Homo sapiens: one gene and its partners. The protein of the gene in region 6 purifies or fractionates together with the protein of the main gene of each other region. This does not show direct contact. Each region holds a gene or a part of one and is shown on either strand. Other genes may lie near its edges.

What was found.
Region 1: the proteins of CFAP97 (region 6) and ANAPC7 purify together in Homo sapiens (affinity purification with mass spectrometry; one large-scale study listed by BioGRID and IntAct). This does not show direct contact.
Region 2: the proteins of CFAP97 (region 6) and INF2 purify together in Homo sapiens (affinity purification with mass spectrometry; one large-scale study listed by BioGRID and IntAct). This does not show direct contact.
Region 3: the proteins of CFAP97 (region 6) and CRTC3 purify together in Homo sapiens (affinity purification with mass spectrometry; one large-scale study listed by BioGRID and IntAct). This does not show direct contact.
Region 4: the proteins of CFAP97 (region 6) and TPM4 purify together in Homo sapiens (affinity purification with mass spectrometry; one large-scale study listed by BioGRID and IntAct). This does not show direct contact.
Region 5: the proteins of CFAP97 (region 6) and BEND3 purify together in Homo sapiens (affinity purification with mass spectrometry; one large-scale study listed by BioGRID and IntAct). This does not show direct contact.

What each region holds. Positions count from the first base shown.
Region 1 is NC_000012.12:110,386,483-110,390,475, reverse strand, and holds part of ANAPC7 (anaphase-promoting complex subunit 7), read left to right. Parts: intron 1-1,852; coding exon 1,853-1,964; intron 1,965-2,583; coding exon 2,584-2,737; intron 2,738-3,993. UniProt on the Homo sapiens protein: Component of the anaphase promoting complex/cyclosome (APC/C), a cell cycle-regulated E3 ubiquitin ligase that controls progression through mitosis and the G1 phase of the cell cycle.
Region 2 is NC_000014.9:104,709,830-104,713,822, reverse strand, and holds part of INF2 (inverted formin-2), read right to left. Parts: intron 3,736-3,993; coding exon 3,635-3,735; intron 2,887-3,634; coding exon 2,816-2,886; intron 2,745-2,815; coding exon 2,637-2,744; intron 2,195-2,636; coding exon 2,124-2,194; intron 1,391-2,123; coding exon 1,270-1,390; intron 996-1,269; coding exon 831-995; intron 617-830; coding exon 514-616; intron 379-513; coding exon 217-378; intron 1-216.
Region 3 is NC_000015.10:90,640,930-90,644,922, forward strand, and holds part of CRTC3 (CREB-regulated transcription coactivator 3), read left to right. Parts: intron 1-112; exon of another isoform or gene 113-167; coding exon 168-270; exon of another isoform or gene 271-328; intron 329-1,002; coding exon 1,003-1,211; 3' UTR 1,212-3,993. UniProt on the Homo sapiens protein: Transcriptional coactivator for CREB1 which activates transcription through both consensus and variant cAMP response element (CRE) sites.
Region 4 is NC_000019.10:16,100,123-16,103,623, forward strand, and holds the end of TPM4 (tropomyosin alpha-4 chain), read left to right. Parts: intron 1-1,141; coding exon 1,142-1,224; 3' UTR 1,225-2,880; downstream 2,881-3,501. UniProt on the Homo sapiens protein: Binds to actin filaments in muscle and non-muscle cells. Plays a central role, in association with the troponin complex, in the calcium dependent regulation of vertebrate striated muscle contraction.
Region 5 is NC_000006.12:107,067,427-107,070,836, reverse strand, and holds part of BEND3 (BEN domain-containing protein 3), read left to right. Parts: coding exon 1-2,133; 3' UTR 2,134-3,410. UniProt on the Homo sapiens protein: Transcriptional repressor which associates with the NoRC (nucleolar remodeling complex) complex and plays a key role in repressing rDNA transcription.
Region 6 is NC_000004.12:185,162,282-185,166,192, forward strand, and holds part of CFAP97 (cilia- and flagella-associated protein 97), read right to left. Parts: intron 1,899-3,911; coding exon 1,748-1,898; intron 645-1,747; coding exon 517-644; 3' UTR 1-516.

The DNA of each region.
Region 1 (3,993 bases), on a different chromosome or scaffold from region 6:
AAGAGATTGGGGGTTGACCTTTTTTCTTTTGTGCCCTCACATTGACTGCTTCCTTAGGTTAATGATCTAGCAAATACTGTTGTGTTTAAAATCTACTAATTTTGCCAGACACGGTGGCTCACGCCTGTAATCCCAGCACTTTGGGAGGCCGAGGTGGTTGGATCACCTGAGGTCAGGAGTTCAAGACCAGCCTGGCCAACATGGTGAAACACCATCTCTACTTAAAATACAAAAAAAAAATTAGCTGGGCGTGGTGGCGGGTGCCTGTAATCCCAGCTACTCAGGAGGCTGAGGCAGGAGAATCACTTGAACCCAGGAGGCAGAGGTTGCAGTGAGCTGAGATCGTGCCATCGCACTCTAGCCTGGGTGACAAGCGTGAAACTCCGTCTCAAAAAAAAAAATCTAATTTTAAATTGGAATATTGTGTTTATCTGTGTACTATTAGGAAGGTCTTTTATCACTTGCCTATAACTTCTACATTCTTAGGAACTTTTAGATTTTCTGGCTTTTTTTTTGTTTTTGTGGGTTTTTTTTGTTGTTTTTTGAGACGGAGTCTCGCTCTGTCTCCCAGTCTGGAGTGCAGTGGCACGATCTCGGCTCACTGCAAGCTCTGCCTTCCGGGTTCACGTCATTCTCCTTCCTCAGCCTCCTGAGTAGCTGGGACTACAGGCGCCCGCCACCACGCCCAGCTAATTTTTTGTATTTTTTAGTAGAGACGGGGTTTCACTGTGTTAGCCGGGATGGTCTCAATCTCCTGACCTCGTAATCCACCCACCTCGGCCTCCCAAAGTGCTGGGATTACAGGCATGAGCCACTGCGCCCGGCCAGAACTTTTAGATTTTCTCATTTCCCAGTTGCATGTTAGGTAGGATTATTTTAATTTAGCTTTACAAAGTTACATATTTAAATTACGCTAAAATGCAGCTGTCTGCACTCACTGGATTTAAATAGTGTAGCTGATTTTTGTAGCATTACTTTAGTGAGTTAGTACCTACGGGCCAAAGCCTTAAGTGTTAGAAAGGCTAGAGTCTAGCCACAAGTCGAATTGTCAAAGAAAAGCCAAGTATTATACTTCTTTATCTGTCTTTCTGTATCATTTCCTTATTAGGAAAAACTGAGCTGATCCTTCTTAACTAGCTATGTCAAGAGTTTCTCACTTTCTTATGTGAGATAGTTCATCTTCTGTTTTAAGATCAAGAAAGAATCAAGTTAACTAGCGTTCTCTACCATTTCTTAAATGAATGTTATTCCAGTTTCCAGAGGGCAGCGTCTTTTGTTCAGATATTACTGGGCCTTGTGGGAAGGTAATGTGACTTTCCTCTTAGGGAAGGCAGGAGCTAGGGAAAGGAAGGGTAGTAATTTCTTTTCTTTTCTTTTTTTTTTTTTTTTTTTTTAAGATGGAGTCTCACTCTGTAGCCCAGGCTGGAGTGCAGTGGCGTGATGTCGGTTCACTGCAAGCTCCGCCTCCCGGTTTCACACCATTCTCCTGCCTCAGCCTCCCGAGTAGCTGGGACTACAGGCTCCCGCCACCACGCCCAGCTAATTTTTTTGTATTTTTTAGTAGAGACGGGGTTTCACTGTGTTAGCCGGGATGGTCTCAATCTCCTGACCTCGTGATCCACCCACCTCGGCCTCCCAAAGTGCTGGGATTACAGGCGTGAGCCACTGCACCTGGCCAATTTCTTCTTTCTTTTGAAGAATGGGGTCAGTCTGCCTTTATTTGCACAGGGTTGTGGGTAGATTTTCCAGTAAAAAGTAAATAACTGGTAATGAAAATTAGGACTTTTTCATGGTGAGAGATTTTCTTTGCAATATACGCTTATTTTGCTATCTGTTATTTGTGTTTGTACAGATAAACATGATGCTGGCAAACCTGTACAAGAAGGCTGGTCAGGAGCGCCCTTCAGTCACCAGCTATAAGGAGGTGCTGAGGCAGTGCCCATTAGCCCTTGATGCCATTCTAGGTAGAGATATTTCCTGCCTGTTTTCATGGCATGTTTACTGTCAAAGATAGTAGTTCTCAATCTTGCCTGTACATTAGAATAACTTTATTTTTTTTAAAAGTTCCCCTGAAGAGAGTGATTTAGTAGGATTCCTGTTGTCACATATTCAATCAAGAAATACTTAATTATGGTTTTTGGCCGGGCATGGTGGCTTACACCTGTAATTCTAGCACCTTGGGAGGCTGAGGTGGGTGGATTGCCTGAGCTCAGCAGGTCGAGACCAGCCTGGGCAACATGGCACAACCCCGTCTCTACTAAAAATACAAAAATTAGCCAGGCATGGTGGCGCGTGCCTGTAGTCCCAGCTTCTCGGAAGGCTGGGGCATGAGTATCGCTTGAACCCAGGAGGCAGAGGTTGCAGTGAGCTGAGATTGTGCCACTGCATTCCAGCCCAGGGGGACAGAACAAGACACTGTCTCAAAAAGAAAAGAAATACTAAATTATGGTTTTTCTCTCATGCATCGCTCAGAATAGGGAAGCAGTTGCCTTTTAGCCAAGGGAAGATGTAGCCCGTTGCTCCTTGCATGTGGAAGAGAGATATCGTGCCTTACTTTCTTTCTTCTGCTTTCTGTTGGTTTAGGCTTGTTGTCCCTTTCTGTAAAAGGGGCAGAGGTGGCATCCATGACAATGAATGTGATCCAAACCGTGCCTAACTTGGACTGGCTCTCTGTGTGGATCAAAGCGTATGCTTTTGTGCACACTGGTGACAACTCAAGAGCAATCAGTACCATCTGGTGAGAGCCACAAAGTTAATTCAGTGTTCTTGAGGCCCTTTGCTTGTCTGGAAGTCTGATGTATCTGAAGTAGCAAAAAGAAAAATGAGATGCTTTGCTGTTGGTGCTGCAGCCAGTCTCTGGGATGTGTTAGTCTTTTATACTGAATGGTCCCAAATGTAATCATGTAATCATCTCTGTTGGAGACCTGTAAAAATAGAAATCTGACTGAGTTTAGCTCTGTGCCTGCACAGGTAGTAACCCTTGCAAAGCAAAGCAGGCTACCTTGGTGTGTCATTTTTTTTTTTTTTTTTGAGACAAGGTCGGTCTCTCTCTCTCTCTCTCTCTCTCTCTCTCTCTCTCTCTCTCTCTCTCTGTCTCTCTCTCTCTCTGTCTCTCTCTCTCTGTCTCTCTCTCTCTCTGCCTCTCTCTCTCTCTCTGTCTCTCTGTCTCTCTCTCTCTCTCTCTCTCTGTCTCTCTCTCTCTCTCTCTCTCTCTCTCTCTGTCTCTCTGTCTCTCTGTCTCTCTCTCTCTCTCTCTCTCTCCCAGGCTAGAGTGCAGTGGCGCAGTCACAGCTCAGTGTAGCCTTGACCTGTCAATCTCCCGGGCTCAAACCATCCTCCTGCTCAGCCTCCTGAGTATCTGGGACTACAGGCGCATGCCACCACACCCAGCTAATTTTTGTATGTTTTTGTAGAGATGGGATTTCACCATGTTGCCCAAGCTGGTCTTGAATTCCTGGGCTCAAGTGATTCTCCCACGTGGGCCTCCCAAAGTGCTGGGATTATAGACGTGAGCCACCATGCCTGGCCTTGGTGTATCATTCTTCAGCCTGGAAGAAAATCATTTTGCACTCACCAGAAGCTTGGTTTATTGCAGTGTCTAACCTAGCTTGCCTGCTTAGGACTAGGGATTTTCTTTATATTCAGATAAAGTTCAAGGACAAGAAGAGACTTGGGCTTGTGTTATGCAAAGTCGTTTACTTGAGTAATAAATAGGTGTCACTTGTGAATGACATTACCTTTAACACCATGTAGCGTATGTTGTGTTCTGAAGAACTGCAACCACAGAGTTATTTGTTGGTACTGAGAGACTTCTGCTTTATTCTTTGTTTTTGCTATCCTGTCCTATATAACTTTTTTTAAAGTCATAAGCTTAAAGTTTTTTATTACGAAGAATTTTATATTTATGCAAAAGAAAATAGTATCTGTATGACCAATCATCCAGATTCAGCAACTAAGAGGATTTATAATAGATTTAAAGGTTCAATGTTTAAT
Region 2 (3,993 bases), on a different chromosome or scaffold from region 6:
GCCTGCGGTTACAGTGGAGGAGCTGGAGTGAGTGGAGGGAGGGATGAGGGCTGAGCGGCCACCACCTGTCCCCTCGGCTGTCCCCAGTCTTAGGGGCCTCCAGGGTGGCCCAGGGAGAGGAGAGGGCTTTCCAGTGAAGTCAGGAGGACTTCCTGGAGGCACAGGGTAGGGACAGTGGCAAGGGGACCATGAGGAGGCAGTGGGAGAGGGTCTTACCAGGCTCTGTGGCTCTTGGGGGATCCATGGAGGCTGCCTTGCTGCCCCCGTCGGTGTCCCCGCGGCCCCGGGCTGTCTTCCGCAGCTGGAAGCCCTTCCTGATGTCAGCCAGCAGGGCATCGATGACACACACCTCCTCCTGCTTCCCGGGCCCCTTCCTGACTGAGGAGCGTGGGGCACTCAGAGAGCGGCATGGGACCCTGGAGCCCACCTAGAGGGCTGGGGGTGGTGGGGAGGCTGGAGCACAGACAAGGATCCCAGAGTCACCCCCTCCCCGCCCAGCCGGCCCAGCCTCACCAGGCTTCCCGTCCTCTCCCCGAGGCCGCCGCGCCTCCTCCTCCGCCAGCTGCTGCTTCCTCCTCTCTGCCTTCGCCGCCTGCTCCTTCCGGTCCTTGTTCTCCTGCACTGGCAGATGTGGCCCCGTCACCCCAGCGTGGCATCCCTCAGGGGCTCCATGGGCCTGGGCGTCCCCCTCCCTGAGCCGCAGCAGCGCAGGGCCCACATGGCTGTGTCGGCCCGACGAAAGGTGCCTCTGCCCATCCTGCCGGAGGAAGGCCAGGGGCCTCGGGACCCCACTCTAGCCAGACAGGCTGTGTCCCGCCGGGCTGCCCCACCTTCAGGGCGCGGAGGAAAAGGTCCCGGAAAGCCTTCATGGTGCTGAACGTGTCCTCCAGGGACAGCTGCTGGGCGTCCTCACACAGGTAGTCGGCCAGCTCCCGTTGCTTCTGCTCGATGGCCTCAAACAGCTCATCCAGTGCCCGGAAGGCCGAGATGCTGGCCTGGGGGCAAGGGCACGTGACAGTCCCGTGAGAGCCCCGCGCGGGCACCACCCGGGGTGAGGCCCTGAGTTGCGGGAGGGTGACGGCCACAGGGACAGGCCCTGAGGACGGTGGTCTCTGACAAGGAGCAGGGGCCTGTGCCCTGACCATGCACACCTGGGGAAACTCGGGCCCCAGGATCCACCCTGGAGCCAGGAGACAGCACAGCCACTCGCCCAGCTCACTCTATCAGGGCAGCCTCTCCCGCCAGCCCCAGGCCCAGGTGCCCACTTGCCTGGAGGCGCTCGGTGTACTGCTCCTGGACCTCGGCCACGGAGGCAGACACCTTCCGCTCGGTCTCCAGAAGCTTCTTCAGGTTGGAGCTGGCCTCTGAGCGGATGATCTCCAGGTTGATCCTGAAAGGTGAGGAGGGCCGGGCAGAGACAGCAACGGCTGACGTCAGCCTCGCTGGGACAGGGGAGCCCCTCCCCTGCACCCCCCGGCACCCCACTGTGCACCCTGCAGGCTGTACTCTGAGGCTGCACGTGCAGTGTTGGGGTTGAGTGCCTGTTCCAGCTGACCCTCAGCCCCCTGTGAGCATCTGGGCGGGGACCCTAACGGTCAGCCTGTCCTGCTTGCCTAGTTCTCCCCAAGGCTGAGCAGCTCCTGAGCCAGAGAACCTTCCAGGGCAGGTGGAGCCCGGGAAGAACTCCGTGCTAGGGGCCCGGACTGTGTAGTGGGGTGGCCCAGGCTGCCCTCCTGCCTGGGTTGTGTGACCCAGGAGGTGACACTGCTTTCCTGGGCCTCCGTTTCCTCATCTATACAATGAGGGAGGCCCGAGCCTGCTCACGGCTGTCGTGAAGGTCCACCTTGTGAAGGGGCTGTATTAGACCTGCCCGTGGTGTGACCCTGACCTGGCCAGCCCTTGCCCACTCTAGGCCTGTTTCCTCGCTTAAGTCAGAAGGGGATAGGCCACGGCAGACCCGGTCCTGTCCCAAAAGGGAAGTGTTCTATTGGGCAGGGCTCCGTGGCGCCGGGGCTGCGCTGCAGCTGTGAGACCCAGCCCTGGCGGGCAGCCACCTCACTGCCTGGGGACAGAAGTCAGGCCCCCACCTGGCTGAGGTGGGCGGGCTGGCAGGAGCTACCTACCCTGCTGCTTGCGAGGGCTGTTCCAGGTCCCGGGGCAGCTGCAGGAGGTCGGGGTGGCTCTTTTCCGCTTCCTGCAATGGGACACGTCCAGTGAGATCCACTGTGGTCATACTCTCCACCTGGGGATGACCCTGTTCCCACTCCCCCAGCTCTAACCCTTAGCAATTAAGGTCCAGAAAACCCCCAGTACTCCAGACCCTCAAATCTTTCCCTTGGGCCTGGCTATGACTTTGTGATGTTTCTGCTTTTCCTAGGGACTGTCCCCCAGATCAGGGACAGGTATCCTGGGGAGGGACAAGGCTCGTGCAGGGGAGCCAGTGCTGCAGGAAGGAAGGGGTGCTGGGAGGGGTGGGGGCGTGGCTCTGACTGAGGCTGCTGGCTCTAGACGGAGCCCTGAGACAGGGAGACCGGCGGCCTGAGTGGTGGGCATGGGGGTATGGCCTCTACGCCTCTACACCCCAGGTCCGGGGGGACTTGAAGCCCTCCCATTATGCCCCCGCCACCACGGCCCACCTCCAGCACGTGGTGCAGCAGCGTCACGCGGTTCTGCTGGGACTTGGTCTCCGTGAGCTTCAGCAATGTGCTGATCTTGAAGCCGTCGGCGTCACCGGTGTGGCTGCCCTGGGAGGGGCAGGGAGTGAGTCTCACCAGCCCCTGGCACCAGGTGGGATGGGGAGCTGCCCCTGACTTACGTAGTTGAGGAAGTTCCCAATTCTCAGGATCAGCTGGCAGAAGATGGGCAGCTGGCGGCTGGTGAGCAGGCCTGCAGGGGCAGCCAGGGCTGGAGAGGGGCTCTTGGTTCGGAGCCCCCAGATGCCCTGGCGGTGGGGTGTGGTCCTGCTTGCCAGTGCCCCTGCACTCCCTGGCTCCTCCCCAGGCTCAGCCCAGCACCGGAAGGATCACAGGACAGGGCCTGGGGGCTGCAAACCCTCCACCGACGGGAGTGGACACCTACAGTGTGCCTGACAGACGTGAGCTGTGCCTCACTGGTCCGTACCTGTCCCTCTCCCTGCCCAGTGGCTGTGGCAGGTCCCCATGGATTCCCCTTTCAGAGATGGTGCCCGTGTGTGTGCACTTATGTCTGTACATGTATGTGAGGGTGTGTGTGTTGGGGGGGTGTGTACGTGTGTCTGTGTGTCCTGTGTGCATGTGTGTGACTGTGCTTGTGGGCTTGTGTGTGTGCACGTGCCCGAGTGGCGGTGTGCATGCGTGTGTGCACGTGCCTGAGTGGCGGTGTGCTTGTGTGTGCGCGTGCCGGAGAGTGGCAGTGTGCTTGTGTGTGTGCACGTGCCCGAGTGGCGGTGGGCATGCGTGTGTCTGTGCGTCCAGTAGGTGTGTGCACCGAGGTGGTGGCAGCAGGGTGGTTTCCGGAGTGGTGGTGAAGGCTGGCACCCTTAGGTGCTCTTAGCAGCCATTATGATACTGGCAGTAGCAGGGGCCCCGAGCAGCCCTCCCGCCCCGGTTCGGAGGCCTGTCCCTCCTGCACACGTGCCCCGCTTGGCCCCACTCACTTTCGCAGGCAGCCAGCACCAGCTGGGCCTTGGGCCGCACCATGTCCAGCACGGCGGCCGCGCCCTCACACAGCAGCATGCACTCGATTCGCAGCTGGTAGCTGGGGATGGCACAGACAGGGATCAGTGGCCTGCACCCCCCACCTGTCCCTGCCAGAGGGGCACTCAGCACAGGGCTCTGGCTTGGGTGGTGGGCAAAGGGAGGGGGTTTCCACCGCCTGCCCCATCCAACAGGCACCCTCCCGGGCCTGCGCAGAGCAGGATCCAATTCCTCCAGAGGCCTCCAGCCCCACACTTTGAGGGGAAGGACTGGGGGTGGGGCTCGAGTGATGTTTAGAAGCCCAACCGCTGCAATGCTG
Region 3 (3,993 bases), on a different chromosome or scaffold from region 6:
ATATTGTGCATGCATTACCATAAGAGCAAAGCACTCTGGGATCCTGGAAAGAAGGGAATATGGATTAGTTTGCAAGTCAGGTTTTGCTCTGGGAGCACATTGCAATACTCACTTCCTCCTTGGAAACAGAGGTGTGGCCTTCCTCACATGACCTTCGATGCTTCCAGGTGCCTCTGGTGCAACAAGGTTCCCGAGAACTGCAGGACTCTTTTCATTTGAGACCAAGCCCGTATTCCAACTGCGGGAGTCTCCCGAACACCATCCTGCCAGGTGAGCGAGCTATCCCTCAGCTTCTTTACTGCTTTTATGTTGTTGTGTGTTCAGGAACCTTCATAAGAGAGTTTAAACAACATAATATTATATAAAGCAAAAAGTTAACGTTCCCTGGGTCGACTTGACTTTTTGAGATGCAGGTGTCCAGCCTCAGAGACCGTGACACAGGGCGGTGGGCCTGGTAGTCAAAGCCTTTTCTGAAAGATTTCATCTGGCCCAGTGCGGTGGCTCACGCCTGTAATCCCAGCACTTTGGGAGGCCGAGGTGGGCGGATCATCAGGTCAGGAGATCGAGACCATTCTGGCTAACACAGCGAAACCCCGTCTCTACTAAAAAATACAAAAAAAATTAGCTGGGCATGGCGGCGGGCGCCTGTGGTCTCAGCTACTCGGGAGGCTGAGGCAGAATGGCACCAACCCAGGAGGTGGAGCTTGCAGTGAGCCGAGATTGTGCCACTGTACTCCAGCCTGGGCAACAGTCTCCAAAAAAAAAAAAAGATTTCATCTTAGGTGACTGATGACTGTTCAAAAGGAAAAAACCTGCAAAAATTGGGAGTTGTGCAACTGACTGACAAGAATGTAGATTCCAGGGCAAGAACTGTGGGCCTGGGGGTGGTCAGGATGTGTGGGATAGCAGTTTAGGGGACTGTCATCAGCTGGGTTTGCTTAGTAGCCTGGAGCCTTCGCGCCTCCTAACCGCACTGTTTTCCCCTCTGGCCACTCCTTTCAGAAGACTCCAGCACCAGCCTGTTCAAAGACCTCAACAGTGCGCTGGCAGGCCTGCCTGAGGTCAGCCTGAACGTGGACACTCCATTTCCACTGGAAGAGGAGCTGCAGATTGAACCCCTGAGCCTGGACGGACTCAACATGTTAAGTGACTCCAGCATGGGCCTGCTGGACCCCTCTGTTGAAGAGACGTTTCGAGCTGACAGACTGTGAACAGAAGGCAGTGGAACAGAAGAATGTTTTTCTGCAACAGCCAAAATAGAATGGAATAGAATGAAGCCAGCTGATACCACGGGCTTTCGTTATCTTGACATAGAAGGAAGCAATGCCACGGCTCCAGGGTTTCAGATGAGATCCCATCTCAGACACTGTGGCTTCCTCCAGATCACACAGCTTTGTACTGCCTCTCCCGCCTGTGGCCAAAGTCGTGTTGCAGCAGGCAGGCTGCTTGGAGCTTCCCATGAACTGGAAAGCTCACCTCCACTGCATCTTTTTACTGGCCATCCAGTCAGCCGATGTGTAAGAGTAGGAAATACTGTGTCACTGGAGGCCTCCGTAGCATTGTGTAGTGTGCTCAGAACCACTGATCTCCGTCCGCACCGAAGGCGGGCCCGGAGTGGGAGGCTCGGCCTGGGGCGGCGGCACCGGAGAGGGCACCTCGATGCCTGCTCTGACCTGACCCAGAGGGCGAGGCCCTCCAGCGGGGGACATTCCCAGGCTGAGTGGACCCCACGGCTCTCTCCCACGCCTGGATTACGACATGAAGTTTTTACCACAAGCCCGAGGGCAGGCTTGAGTTAGGCAGACTGAAGGCTAATTTTCATTTTCTCCCAGCTGGTTTCTGCTGCTTCAGAAAAGTACACCTTTTCCTTATGGACCAGAGGAAGAGGAAGACCATTTTATCAGTCACTGAAAAGAGTCCCCTGGCACTGATGAGCCTGAAGAGAACTGTGCTCCTCCTCGGGGGCTGGGGAAGGAAGACAGGGACTGCAGGTGTCTCATACTCAGTGGCCTCCAGACAAACTCCAGACAAGCACAGACCTCCCCACTAAGAGCAGCCAGAGGGAGCTGGTGAGGCCCTAACCCCACCCACCGAGCAACTGAGCTTCCCCATCCCTCCCCAGAGCTGTGTCTCTGTGGGCTGGGAGTCTAATGTCACCCCCCTAGACCGTAAGCTCCTTGAGGGCAGGGACAGTGCCTTATCATTGTTGAACCCGTAGCACCTAACACGTGCGTGGCAGCACAGTCGTGTGCTGGAGTGAGTGCTGCAGAACCGTGCGTGCAGCGCATGATGAATGAGTGCGTCCGCCATGCCGTAAGGCAGGCTCACCTGTAGCTATCCCCTTCCCTGCCAGATCTTCTCAGAGCTTTAGCTTTTCTAGCACTCGTGCCTATGGTGAAGCATGCACTTTAATATGCTTTTAACACTAGGTGACCAAATCACAGTGAAGCCGGGCACTGCATTCTCCTTGGGCTGTGCTCCACGCGGGTGGGTGGGAGCTGTCTTCTGAGTACATCCGGAAGGGCTGAGCAGGTGAGTGCCCTGAGCATCCTGGCTGGGCCCCACCCAGGAAGATCTTCCTTCTCAGATCCACGTTTGGCTCTAAATTGCTTCAAGTAGAGATTCATTCTTTGAGGTTGAAAAAATAGTTTATAGTAAAACGAAGGCCTAATTCATGGAAGCATCATTAGTCATCAATACCTTCTCATAAAATAGATGGGCCAGATTTCCACCACCGCCTGCCTCCTCTAACTTGGGTGATGCCAGTAGGTTTGAAGGGGGCAGAGCACTGCAGGGGGAGGGGGGGGTCTAGGCTGTGAGAGGACAGGGTGGAGAGGAGGAGAACCCTGAAGGAGAGACGGAAGATGCCAGGACCTTTGCTTGGACAGCCATTGCCCTTCCAGGAGACCCTGGAGTGTACTGAGGGTTGCTGGACTGTTCCACCCAGAGGAGCAAGGCTGTACAATGAGGGTCTGAATCTGGCACACCTGTCCCTTATGTAAAAGGAGTCGTGGTCACAAGACCCTGGGCTGGTTAGCCTCTCCCGACCTCATTCCATTTCTATCTTCTGACCTTGCCTCTCATCTTTAAAATAACCCTCATGGGGTGCCCCTCCACCTTCCTCTGGAATCCAAGTATTCCTGTTTCACATTTGCCCCAAATCTTTGCTGTGGAATTGGGAAATCAAACCAGAGTCCTCCTCGCCTGATTTCCAGCTCAGGAAGGGCCTGCTGGCCTGCCCTGTTCCCAGTTACACTTTCAGATCCCTTTGTGCTCAAGATCTCAGAGGGGGTGGCTTTTTGTTAAAGAGCCTTCAGTCGCAATGCTACCCAGCACCCCATGTGCCAAAAGAAACCAGCTCCTGTGTCAAAGGGCTTCCAAACCTGATCTCACTCTCAACAGGCGATGGTGCTGATGTTTCAAGAATTGTGTTTTTATAAAACAGAGGTCTCAGCATAGTCACTCTTCACATAGTGCCTTACCCATGGGTATCGTCATATCCGGGTCCCAGTTCAGTTTGTCTGCACAGCAGCCACCCTGCCTGGCAACAGAGACCCCAAGACCTACACAGTGAACCCTACTGCCCCAAAGGCGTTCTCCAGGTGACTTGTGAAAACAGACCTCCGGGGAAGTGATTTATTGGGGGTGTACACTGGGGGCAATATGGTTTAGCACTGAATTCAATTTGTCCTTAGGTCTATGAGTGAGTCCGATCTTTTCTTGTGAAAGGTTTTGGGCATCGTACAACCCACTCTGCCTAGAAGGTGTGGAGGACTCACCACGGGCAGGGTCGCCCTGGCCCACAGCACGTGAGCCTGCACTCACTGCGGCCTTTGTAACAAAACCAGTTGTGGTCCTCAGCATTTGAAGCAGCTGCATACTTCAGAGTAAACTATTTTTCATTATTTAGTTTTGTCACAAGAAATCGACCATTGTACTACTCTCACTTACAGCAGTTAAACAGCATAGAACTAAAAACCTGTCTGCATTTCC
Region 4 (3,501 bases), on a different chromosome or scaffold from region 6:
ATTCCTCATCATAACCCCCACACCACGCATTGATATCGTTACCCCCATTTGACAGACGGGGAAAACAGACCTAGGAAGGTTAGATGCTTACTTAAGTGATACAACTGGAGCTTAAGTTCAGGTATTCTGACTCAAGGGTTACCAGAGTTCACAAGGAAAAATACAGGACACCAACTTAAATCTGAGTTTCAGATAAGCAATGAATAATTTTTTAATCATAAGTATATCTCTTGCATAAGTACATCTCATGCAACATTTGGGATATACTTACACTAAAATATTATTTGTGGTTTATCTGAAATTCAATTTAACTGGGCGCCCTGCATTTTATCTTACAACTGTGACTCCCAAATTTGGTGCTTGTTCCTTAGTATTCTGTGATGTTCTGCTGTAATTAAAAATACAAAGTACTGGACAGGCATGGTGGCTATAACCCACCTGTATTCCCAGCACTTTGGGAGGCTGAGCAGATGGGTTCCTTGAGCCCAGGAGCTCAAGACCAGCCTGGGTAACATGGTGAGACCCTGTCTCTAGAAAAAATGCAAAAATTGGCCAGGTGGTGGCATGCACCTGCAGTCCCAGCTATGCGGGAGGCTGAGGTGGGAGGATCACCTGAGCCCAGGGAGGTCAAGGCTACGGTGATTCGTGATTACGCCACTGCACTTCAGCCTGGACAACAGAGTGAGACCCTGTCTCAAAAAAAAAGTACTTTCTCTCTTGTGACTTTCACCCTGGCAGTTTCAGGTTTAGAAATCTTTGGGGGGGTGCTGGGCATGGTGGCTCACACCTGTAATCCCAGCACTTTAGGAGGCCAAGGTGGGTGGATCACTTGAGGTCAAGAGCTCGAGACCAGCCTGGCTAACATGGTGAAACCCCATCTCTACTAAAAATACAAAAATTAGCCGGGTGGTGGTGGCACGCGTCTGTAATCCCAGCTACTCGGGAGGCTGAGGCAGGAGAATTGCTTGAGCCTGGCAGGTGAAGGTTGCAGTGAGCCAAGATCGCGCCACTGCACTCCAGCCTGGGTGACAGAATGAGACCCTGTCTCAAGAAGAAGAAAAAAAAACAAATCTTTTTTTTTCTTTCATTTAACAAAGACGCTTATTAATTTATCTTTCCCCATACTCTTAATCCTCACCAGAGAAACTTGCCCAGGCCAAAGAAGAGAACGTGGGCTTACATCAGACACTGGATCAGACACTAAACGAACTTAACTGTATATAAGCAAAACAGAAGAGTCTTGTTCCAACAGAAACTCTGGAGCTCCGTGGGTCTTTCTCTTCTCTTGTAAGAAGTTCCTTTTGTTATTGCCATCTTCGCTTTGCTGGAAATGTCAAGCAAATTATGAATACATGACCAAATATTTTGTATCGGAGAAGCTTTGAGCACCAGTTAAATCTCATTCCTTCCCTTTTTTTTTCAAATGGCACCAGCTTTTTCAGCTCTCTTATTTTTTCCTTAAGTAGCATTTATTCCTAAGGTAGGCAGGGTATTTCCTAGTAAGCATACTTTCTTAAGACGGAGGCCATTTGGTTCCTGGGAGAATAGGCAGCCCCACACTTTGAAGAATACAGACCCCAGTATCTAGTCGTGGATATAATTAAAACGCTGAAGACCATAACCTTTTGGGTCAACTGTTGGTCAAACTATAGGAGAGACCAGGGACCATCACATGGGTAGGGATTTTCCATCCAGAGCCAATAAAAGGACTGGTGGGGGCCGGGGGTGGCTATTGTGGGAAGTCATAACCCACAGATAGATCAACCTAAGAATCCTGGCCCTTCTCCACTCTCCACCATGCAGGACAAACATCTTCTCAAGCAGTCAACGTAGAATGCTTGGGAAATAGTCATAATTACCCACATATAGTAATTAATAGATGGTAATTAATTGATCCTTGATGTGATGTTCTTTTGCATATTTCCTTCATTCTAAAGTTGTTCCCTGGCCGGGAGCGTTGGCTTTCGCCTGTAATCCCAACACTTTGGGAGGCCAGGACAGATCACTTGAGGTCAGGAGTTCGAGACCAGCCCAGCCAACATGGCGAAACCATGTCTCTACTAAAAATACAAAAATTATGGTGACGCCTGCCTGTAGTCCCAGCTACTCGGGAGGCTGAGGCAGGAGGATCGCTTGAACCCAGGAAGTGGAGACTGCAGTGAGCCGATATCGCACCACAGCGCTCCAGCCTGGTCGACAGAGTGAGACTCCATCTCAAGAAAAAATAAAAATAAAGTTGTTCTCTGAAGAGCAAATGTCTCATTCCAGTAATGACCCACTCAGCAGGAATATGGTGGAGTTCAGTCCAATTCAGGTCAGCCATATCCAAAAGACCACAAGTCATTACTAAGTTGAGCAAAAGAGTTTTTATCTATTAGCAGAAAGGGCCTCTCTGGCAGCAGAGATTAAAAACTGGCCCAACTTCATTTCCATACTTCAGGGAACAGCAAATTGAGGATTTACTTATCTAGGACTTGAATTCCTTCTTTGGGACCAAGTTAATAAAAGACCAAGAAACTCCTGATTAAACTGGATAATGAAGGATTCTGTAGACAGGGCTGCACGTATCGGCTTTGTTTGACTTCTCTTTTCTCAGTTAACATCTCAGAGCTAGAACATTCCACATTCCCCAGCAGCGTGTGGGGGCTGACTAAAGTTTACAATTCCAACTAAAAATCACCCTGCTTCTGGCTTATCTGAATCCCTTACCCACCCCACCCCACCACCCTACTCCTATTTATTCAGCACCACACTACCCAGGAAATACACTAGCAAATTGTGCAATGGAATAAAATCCACACTTTAGATTCTTGCAACTGTATCATATGTAATAGTATCACTTTTTCTACATTTTGGTCAAATAAATTTTTACATAAACTACAATTTGCGTGAATTTTAGAATGTGTGGGGGTACACAGAGCATTTTGGTTCAACAAATGTTAAAGGGATGGAAAGGGAAAATAACCAGAGCCAAGAATGTAGACAAGGTTATCTATTTGCTTTATACTGTGACTTCATGATACAAGGATATTACAGTCTCATTGCAGGCGAGAGCACTCAGCCTCGGTCACTCGAAAACTCCTGGCCTTCCTTATCCCCTACGCTGCCTAAGCCAGGCTGTGAAGAATGAGTAGGATTTTAAGAGATAAAAGCAGGGAAAATCATCTCTGTTGCCTGAGTTAGGAAGATCTGCCTAGCTAAGGCTGAGTTACACATACAAAGGAAAGCAGACCAGCATGGGCACCATAGTGAGACCCCGTCTACAAACAATAACAAAAATTTGGCCAGGTACAGTGGCCAAATTACACCTGTAATCCCAGCACTTTGGGAGGCCGAGGCTGGCGGACCGCTTAGGGCCAGGAGTTCAGGACCAGCCTGGCCAACATTGTGAAACCCCATCTCTACTAAAAACACAAAAATGAGCTGGGCATGGTGGTGCACACCTATAATCCCAGCTACCCGGGAGGCGGAGGTTGCAGTGAGCCGAGATCACGCCACTGC
Region 5 (3,410 bases), on a different chromosome or scaffold from region 6:
TGCAACGATGCCACCACCCCTTCCTACAAGAAGCCTCTGTATGGCATCTCGCACAAGATCATGGAGAAGAAGAATCCTCCCTCGGGGGACCTGCTAAACGTGTACGAGCTCTTTGAGAAGGCAAACGCCAGCAACAGCCCCTCGTCACTGCGGCTCCTGAATGAGCCACAGAAGCGGGACTGTGGCAGCACCGGGGCAGGCACTGACAACGACCCCAACATCTACTTCCTGATCCAGAAGATGTTCTACATGCTGAACACCCTCACGTCCAACATGTCCCAGCTGCACAGCAAGGTGGACCTGCTCTCCCTTGAGGTGAGCCGCATCAAGAAGCAGGTGAGCCCCACTGAGATGGTGGCCAAATTCCAGCCGCCCCCTGAGTACCAGCTCACAGCCGCAGAGCTCAAGCAGATCGTGGACCAGAGCCTGTCAGGGGGGGACCTGGCCTGCCGCTTGCTGGTGCAGCTCTTCCCCGAGCTCTTCAGCGACGTGGACTTCTCCCGGGGCTGCAGTGCCTGTGGCTTTGCGGCCAAGCGCAAGCTGGAGTCGCTGCACCTGCAGCTCATCCGCAACTATGTGGAGGTCTACTACCCCTCGGTGAAGGACACGGCTGTGTGGCAGGCCGAGTGCCTGCCCCAGCTGAACGACTTCTTCAGCCGCTTCTGGGCCCAGCGGGAAATGGAGGACAGCCAGCCCAGCGGCCAGGTCGCCAGCTTCTTTGAGGCAGAGCAGGTGGACCCCGGCCACTTCCTGGACAACAAAGACCAGGAGGAGGCCCTGTCTCTTGACCGGAGCAGCACCATCGCCTCAGACCACGTGGTGGACACGCAGGACCTCACTGAGTTCCTGGACGAAGCCTCCTCACCAGGCGAGTTTGCCGTCTTCCTCCTCCACCGGCTCTTCCCCGAGCTCTTCGACCACCGCAAGCTGGGTGAACAGTACAGCTGCTACGGGGACGGTGGAAAGCAGGAGCTGGACCCGCAGCGGCTGCAGATCATCCGCAACTACACGGAGATCTACTTCCCTGACATGCAGGAGGAGGAGGCCTGGCTGCAGCAGTGTGCCCAGCGCATCAACGACGAGCTCGAGGGCCTGGGGCTGGACGCGGGCAGTGAAGGCGACCCCCCGCGTGATGACTGCTACGACTCCTCCAGTCTGCCCGACGACATCTCAGTGGTCAAGGTGGAGGACAGCTTCGAGGGCGAGCGGCCGGGTCGCCGCTCCAAGAAGATCTGGCTGGTGCCCATCGACTTCGACAAGTTAGAGATCCCCCAGCCTGACTTCGAGGTGCCCGGTGCCGACTGCCTGCTCAGCAAGGAGCAGCTACGCAGCATCTACGAGAGCAGCCTGTCCATCGGCAACTTCGCCTCGCGCCTGCTGGTGCACCTGTTCCCCGAGCTCTTCACGCACGAGAACCTGCGCAAGCAGTACAACTGCAGCGGCTCCCTGGGCAAGAAGCAGCTGGACCCCTCCCGCATCAAGCTCATCCGCCACTACGTGCAGCTGCTCTACCCACGCGCCAAAAACGACCGCGTCTGGACCCTGGAGTTCGTGGGCAAACTGGATGAGCGCTGCCGGCGCCGGGACACGGAGCAAAGGCGCTCCTACCAGCAGCAGCGCAAGGTCCACGTGCCGGGCCCTGAGTGCAGAGACTTGACCAGCTATGCAATCAACCCCGAGAGGTTCCGGGAGGAGTTTGAGGGGCCCCCACTGCCCCCCGAGAGGAGCAGCAAGGACTTTTGCAAGATCCCCTTGGACGAGCTGGTGGTCCCCTCGCCTGACTTCCCGGTGCCTTCTCCCTACCTGCTGTCTGACAAGGAGGTGCGTGAGATCGTGCAGCAGAGCCTCTCCGTGGGCAACTTTGCCGCCCGGCTCCTCGTCCGCCTGTTTCCCGAACTCTTCACCGCCGAGAACCTCCGGCTGCAGTACAACCATTCCGGGGCTTGCAACAAGAAGCAACTGGACCCCACGCGGCTGCGGCTCATCCGCCACTACGTGGAAGCCGTCTACCCGGTGGAGAAGATGGAGGAGGTGTGGCACTACGAATGTATCCCCAGCATCGATGAGAGGTGCCGCCGCCCCAACAGGAAAAAATGCGACATCCTCAAGAAAGCAAAGAAAGTGGAGAAGTGAAGGCCCGTGACCTGCCCAGAGATTCGGGGTCACCAGAGGCTGAGCGATGGGCACCCTTGGGACTGAGCAATACTTGGGAGCACGCCTATGGCATCCACAGACAGGCACCTTATGTCCGTGGGGAGTGGCTTACTACATTTGCACACGTAAACACCCACCCAACCGCAAGAAAGAAGCCTTGAGTTTGGTCTCTTGTACTTACAACTTCTGTCCTATGTGCCCCGGCGGGGCAGCCTGAGTGTGGGGAGAGCAAGCTGTGAGGGCAGGGACCAGAGGTTAGGGGTCCTCTCTCCCTGGTTGTGCCCTCCCCAGCCCCTCACAGCTTATAATGCAAACCCAGCAACTCTCTTGCCCCTCTTCCCATATTTTACATCTTCCATTTTGACCCATTTTTTTTTAATTAAAAAGAAACCCTTAAAAAAAATCATTGGGCTCTTTGGGGGCCATTTTACTTAGAAAAAAATCTCTTTAAAAGTGCCATGTTCGTGCACAGTGGCTAATCATAGCTTCAGGTGGCATGGATACTGATTTTACTGACCTTGTTTTTTACATCTGATTTTGGAAGAGTCAAGATGCCCCTTGGATGGCAGTAGAGGGGATGGAATAGTGCGAAGTCCTTTACGACCACATGCAAGTTTTCCCTTCTGCTCTGGTGCCAGGGAAGGCTTCCGTTCAGCTTGGCCTGTCCTTCAGGCGCGTTGGTAGAATGTTGTGTCACTCTTTAGGCGAGAACACTGGATGATGATGATATGAATGTAGACAGCCGTGGAAACACGTTCGCAGTGTCTCCATCTGAGCCGTGTCCTTCCGCTGCCCCCATTCCTTCTCCATACATGGTTGCTGGTTGGAGGGAGTGGACATGTTTCCTTGGAAAACAGTGCAGGGGCTTTTGGCTTCTTGTTAGATTTAAGGGTGGGCCTCTTTGAGCTCACCATGAACTGTTTACTTTTCCGTGTGTGTATTTGTACAAAATCCAGGTTCCGGGAGCTTTGTGGTGACTTCCCCAGACCTCAGTGTTAGCTACTCCAGGCAGTACTACATCCTCATTCCTCAGGGCGGGCCCAGGTCTGGGCCCCTCTTGGGGATACCATGCATTGGAAGGACACAGGCCATTTTAGATGGGGTACACATGTCCCTTCCCAGGGTCCACTCAGAACTTTCCTCTTGGACTCTCTAGAAGGTCCTGCTGTCCTATACCTGGCCACCCCCTGCCTTGGGGGGCACATGTCTTCGTTCCCTCCCGACTGGGAATGTCAGGCTCCTGCAGGCCAGCTGCA
Region 6 (3,911 bases):
GATCAGCTCTACCAGTGAAAACAAATTTCAAGATTTGTTTCATAATAAGTGTTAAATCTCATACAATCGAGCTATGTCATGCCACATAAGTTCTAAAGCAAATGAAAAACAAAGCCAGCCAAATTTAGGAGCTGAGCTCATGGTATAACACTTATAAAGAAATGAAAATAACACAAATTGAAAACTATAGTGACCATCTTGGGTACGACATGCAATGATACTATCACTACTATTTTGACAGCATGACAACTGAATAATTAGAAGATACACATGCATACCACTATTTCTCTATTAAGAACACATACATCTCATATAAATACATCCTCAGGAAACACTTTTTACATTAAATCGTTTTTTGACAATAATTTTGCACTGAATAACAATACATTACAACTCACTGTTGTACACCTTCAATTGCTAAAACGGTATTCTAGATGTTTACACAGAGAATTATAGGAATATGCACGAGCACTTCAAGAAAAGTTGTGTGAACAATGTTTAAAGTAAAAAAGTGTTTTATAACCAAGCTGTACGGACATTAGGGGGTTTAGGTCTTCTTCGAGGGTGGCCACTGGAGGGGTCAACCGCTGATCGCTCACTCCTACAACTGAGACCACTCGTAGCACTGGATGTCCTGGAAGCTCCTGAAAATATAAAAAGAAGAAATATCTGAGAAACTTCTCCTCACTTGAAGTCCAGACTAGTTTTTCTTCCACATTCTATGTGTGTCTAATAGTCTAATGCTATGATTCTCGACTAGGATGCACTTCAGAATTCCCTGTGGAAGTTAAAAAATATAATAACAAACATATCCAGATGCCACACCAGGGGATTTTGATTCACTGGATTGGCGTGGAAAACAAACATTTTTAAAAGCTTCTCAAATAATTCACGTGAAAAAAATGACTTTGTATAACCATTTATATATCTAATCAACAAATAACTTACTACATTTAGGGACAATGCTAAGTATGAGTTACTAAAATAAGACCCTTTCTTAGTCACTATACCACGGAAGCAAGGTTTGGAGAAGGAATAAATGGAACTACTAGTCTTGAGAGTTGAAGACTCACGAGGGCGGGCGCTGGGAAGTTGTGGCATCGGGCGGTTTGGTATTCCCTTCTATTTATTATATGGTTTAGAATGCATACATGAAGTACAGCAGAGACTTCTGTAAAGGACACTGGCCTTTCTAGATGTTGCACACTCCAGCACTAAATGGTCACTCCATTCCTGTACTCTCTGGGGCACACAGCTGGCTAGGTCTGTAACTGATCACACAACAAGCCTTACTGCTTACTGTAAAGCGGTAAGGCTTGTTGTGTGATCAGCTTGCTAATTTTTGTTTTAGTTATCCAGTAAGTAAGAAAAAGCACATATAAGGGCTGGAGGCTATTAGCAATGATTCTTAACTACCTAAGGAGAATGTTTTAGCAGCTTTTAAACAGCACACCTATGTATTTCTTCCTTCAATAAACTTTGAAATTAACAGTCCTTCCTCAATTACCTAAGAACCTACTGATATTTTTGATTGTTTTATCTCCTGGTTTCCTTCCTGTCATTATATGCTGTAAATGAAACCTGAAATTAAGTGAACTAATACAAATAAAACAAAACATGACAGTGGGAAATAACAGAACGCATTCCAGAGTTGGCATTTAAAACTCTATCATAATAACATGTTACGTTTTTTTAAAAAAAGGATACAAGATACAAATAAGTATAAAATAATTTCCAAAATGCTTACTTAATGGGCTATATTGGCCAAGAGTGGATCTGGCCCGTCTTGACAATGGTGATGAGTTGAGATAGCCCATATTGCGATGATAGTCCATCAGTTGTTCTGAACGTTTCATACCAACTGTTGGTTTCACGGCCTCAAGCCTTTTCAATAAAGCCTTCAATAAAGACAATTAATTTGAAAGGCAAGGTTAAACAGCAATCATTTTTAACAAGGCAATACATTCTAGAGCCTGACATTCACTTTCTTTCTTTTTTTTTTTAAGAGACAAGATCTTACTCTGTCACTCAGGCTGGCCTGGAACTCCTGGGCTTAAAGGATCCTCCCATCTCAGCCTCTCAAGTAGCTGGTATTACAGGTGCCACCCACCACATCCCGCCAAAAGATCTTAAATCATTCTCGACATACCATGTGAAAAACATTTCAAATAATATAATTTCATAAAAATCCAAGGGTTTTTGCCTATCCCACAGCTAACCAAACCACTGTGATATAACAATTCATCCAGAGGTGTCCAATGGAGAGAATACAGTCATGGGTTCTTAGTTTCTGTTTCTGGTTGGGCCAGTAAAGCCCCTTCCTCATCTCTCTTTTCTGCATATCACTAGAGACAGAAACTAAAAACCATGGCTTCAGGCTGCTAAAAGCCTAAAACAGAACAACAACAACAAACAACAAAATAAGGTAGGTTAGACAAGCTTGCTAGAGGCCTAATTCTTTTGTGCCAGGTTAGTCTTAGGAAAGGTGCTGTAAGTTGAAATAAAATACACTAAACCTGATTTTCTCATAGACATGATGTAATAGGAGTTATAATGCTAAGAACCTAGTGTTAGACCCTAGGAATGAGCACACACATATGGAAGCTACTACAGATTCTCCACATGTACATTGCAGAGCAGTGCCTTTCACCCTGTTCCTTTGCAGTAGTGCCTCAAGGGCTTGTAGGCCACTGGGGAAAGGCCAGCAGGGAGGGCCCTCGGGTCTTCCACTGCTAGTTTCTACTAGCCCAGCTATGCTTTCTGTATTGTCTGTTTTATATACTAAAGATTCTGCATAACATTTAATTTGGAGAAAAAAGCTTTTGCTGTTAAGAAGTCTGAAAACCAATTAGTATAGAATATAAAGTTTTTAAAAAGATATGTAGCCTGGGCACAGTGGCTCACACCTGTAGTCCCAGCACTTTGGGGAGCCCGGGGCGGGTGGATGACCTGCTTGAGTTCAGGAGTTCCAGACCAGCCTGGACAACATGGCGAAACGCTATCTCCATTTTAATAATATTTTAATAAATTTTAAAAAAGGATATATATACCAATTGGCCAAGGCAACACAGTATCCAATAACATGGTAATTTTTTTTACAATTCAGTAACAGAGACTCATGCAGAATGTTATAAATTTTGTTTATAACTATTTCTTAAAAGGTGAAAGAGTTTATCCTGTTGGCTTTTCGTAGGCATTGTTGAGAAAGAAATACCGAGGTAGACCAAACAGCTTGGGGAATTGATCCATGATTGTGTTTTATTCTTTTCTTTACTCATTCAAACTTTCTCTGAAGGAAGCTGATCTTATTTGCAAAGGGAGTACTGACCTGCACTAAGTTTCACACTAAAAAATCAGACTCATGAATTCAGTCATAGGACAAGTTTTCTCTGTACAATCTTTTCTTCTTTCTTCCTTTTACTGTGGTAAAATGAAACCACATTTTAACCACTTCTAAGCATACAGTTCTGTGGCATTTTGTACACCCACACTGTTGTGAAACATCACCACCGACTCCCATAACTTTTCTTCCACTTGGTGTTTTATCAGTTTCACCCCCTGCCCTTCCATGCTGAGTTCCTGAGCAATTCCAAAGAAGGAACAGATGGTGGAAGAATAAGCCAAGATATCCAGGGGAAGGGCCACTTAGAAAAGGGAGAGGAGGAGGTTGTTATAGAAACAAAAGGAGGCTTGGAGGCAAACAGCAGAGGTGCAAAACACATGAAGAACCGGACAGAACCACTGAGAACATCTTTACTGCCTCCCTGCATGCTATTCCTTCTGCGTGAAGTGCCCCTTCCTAATTTTTGGCCTTCAAAAGCTAGAAAAGAGTCACCTACTCAAATTACCCAACTAGTATTAGTGGTTCCCTTTGCTGAGCTGAGTTTTTATTTCAACATGATTCCACCTGA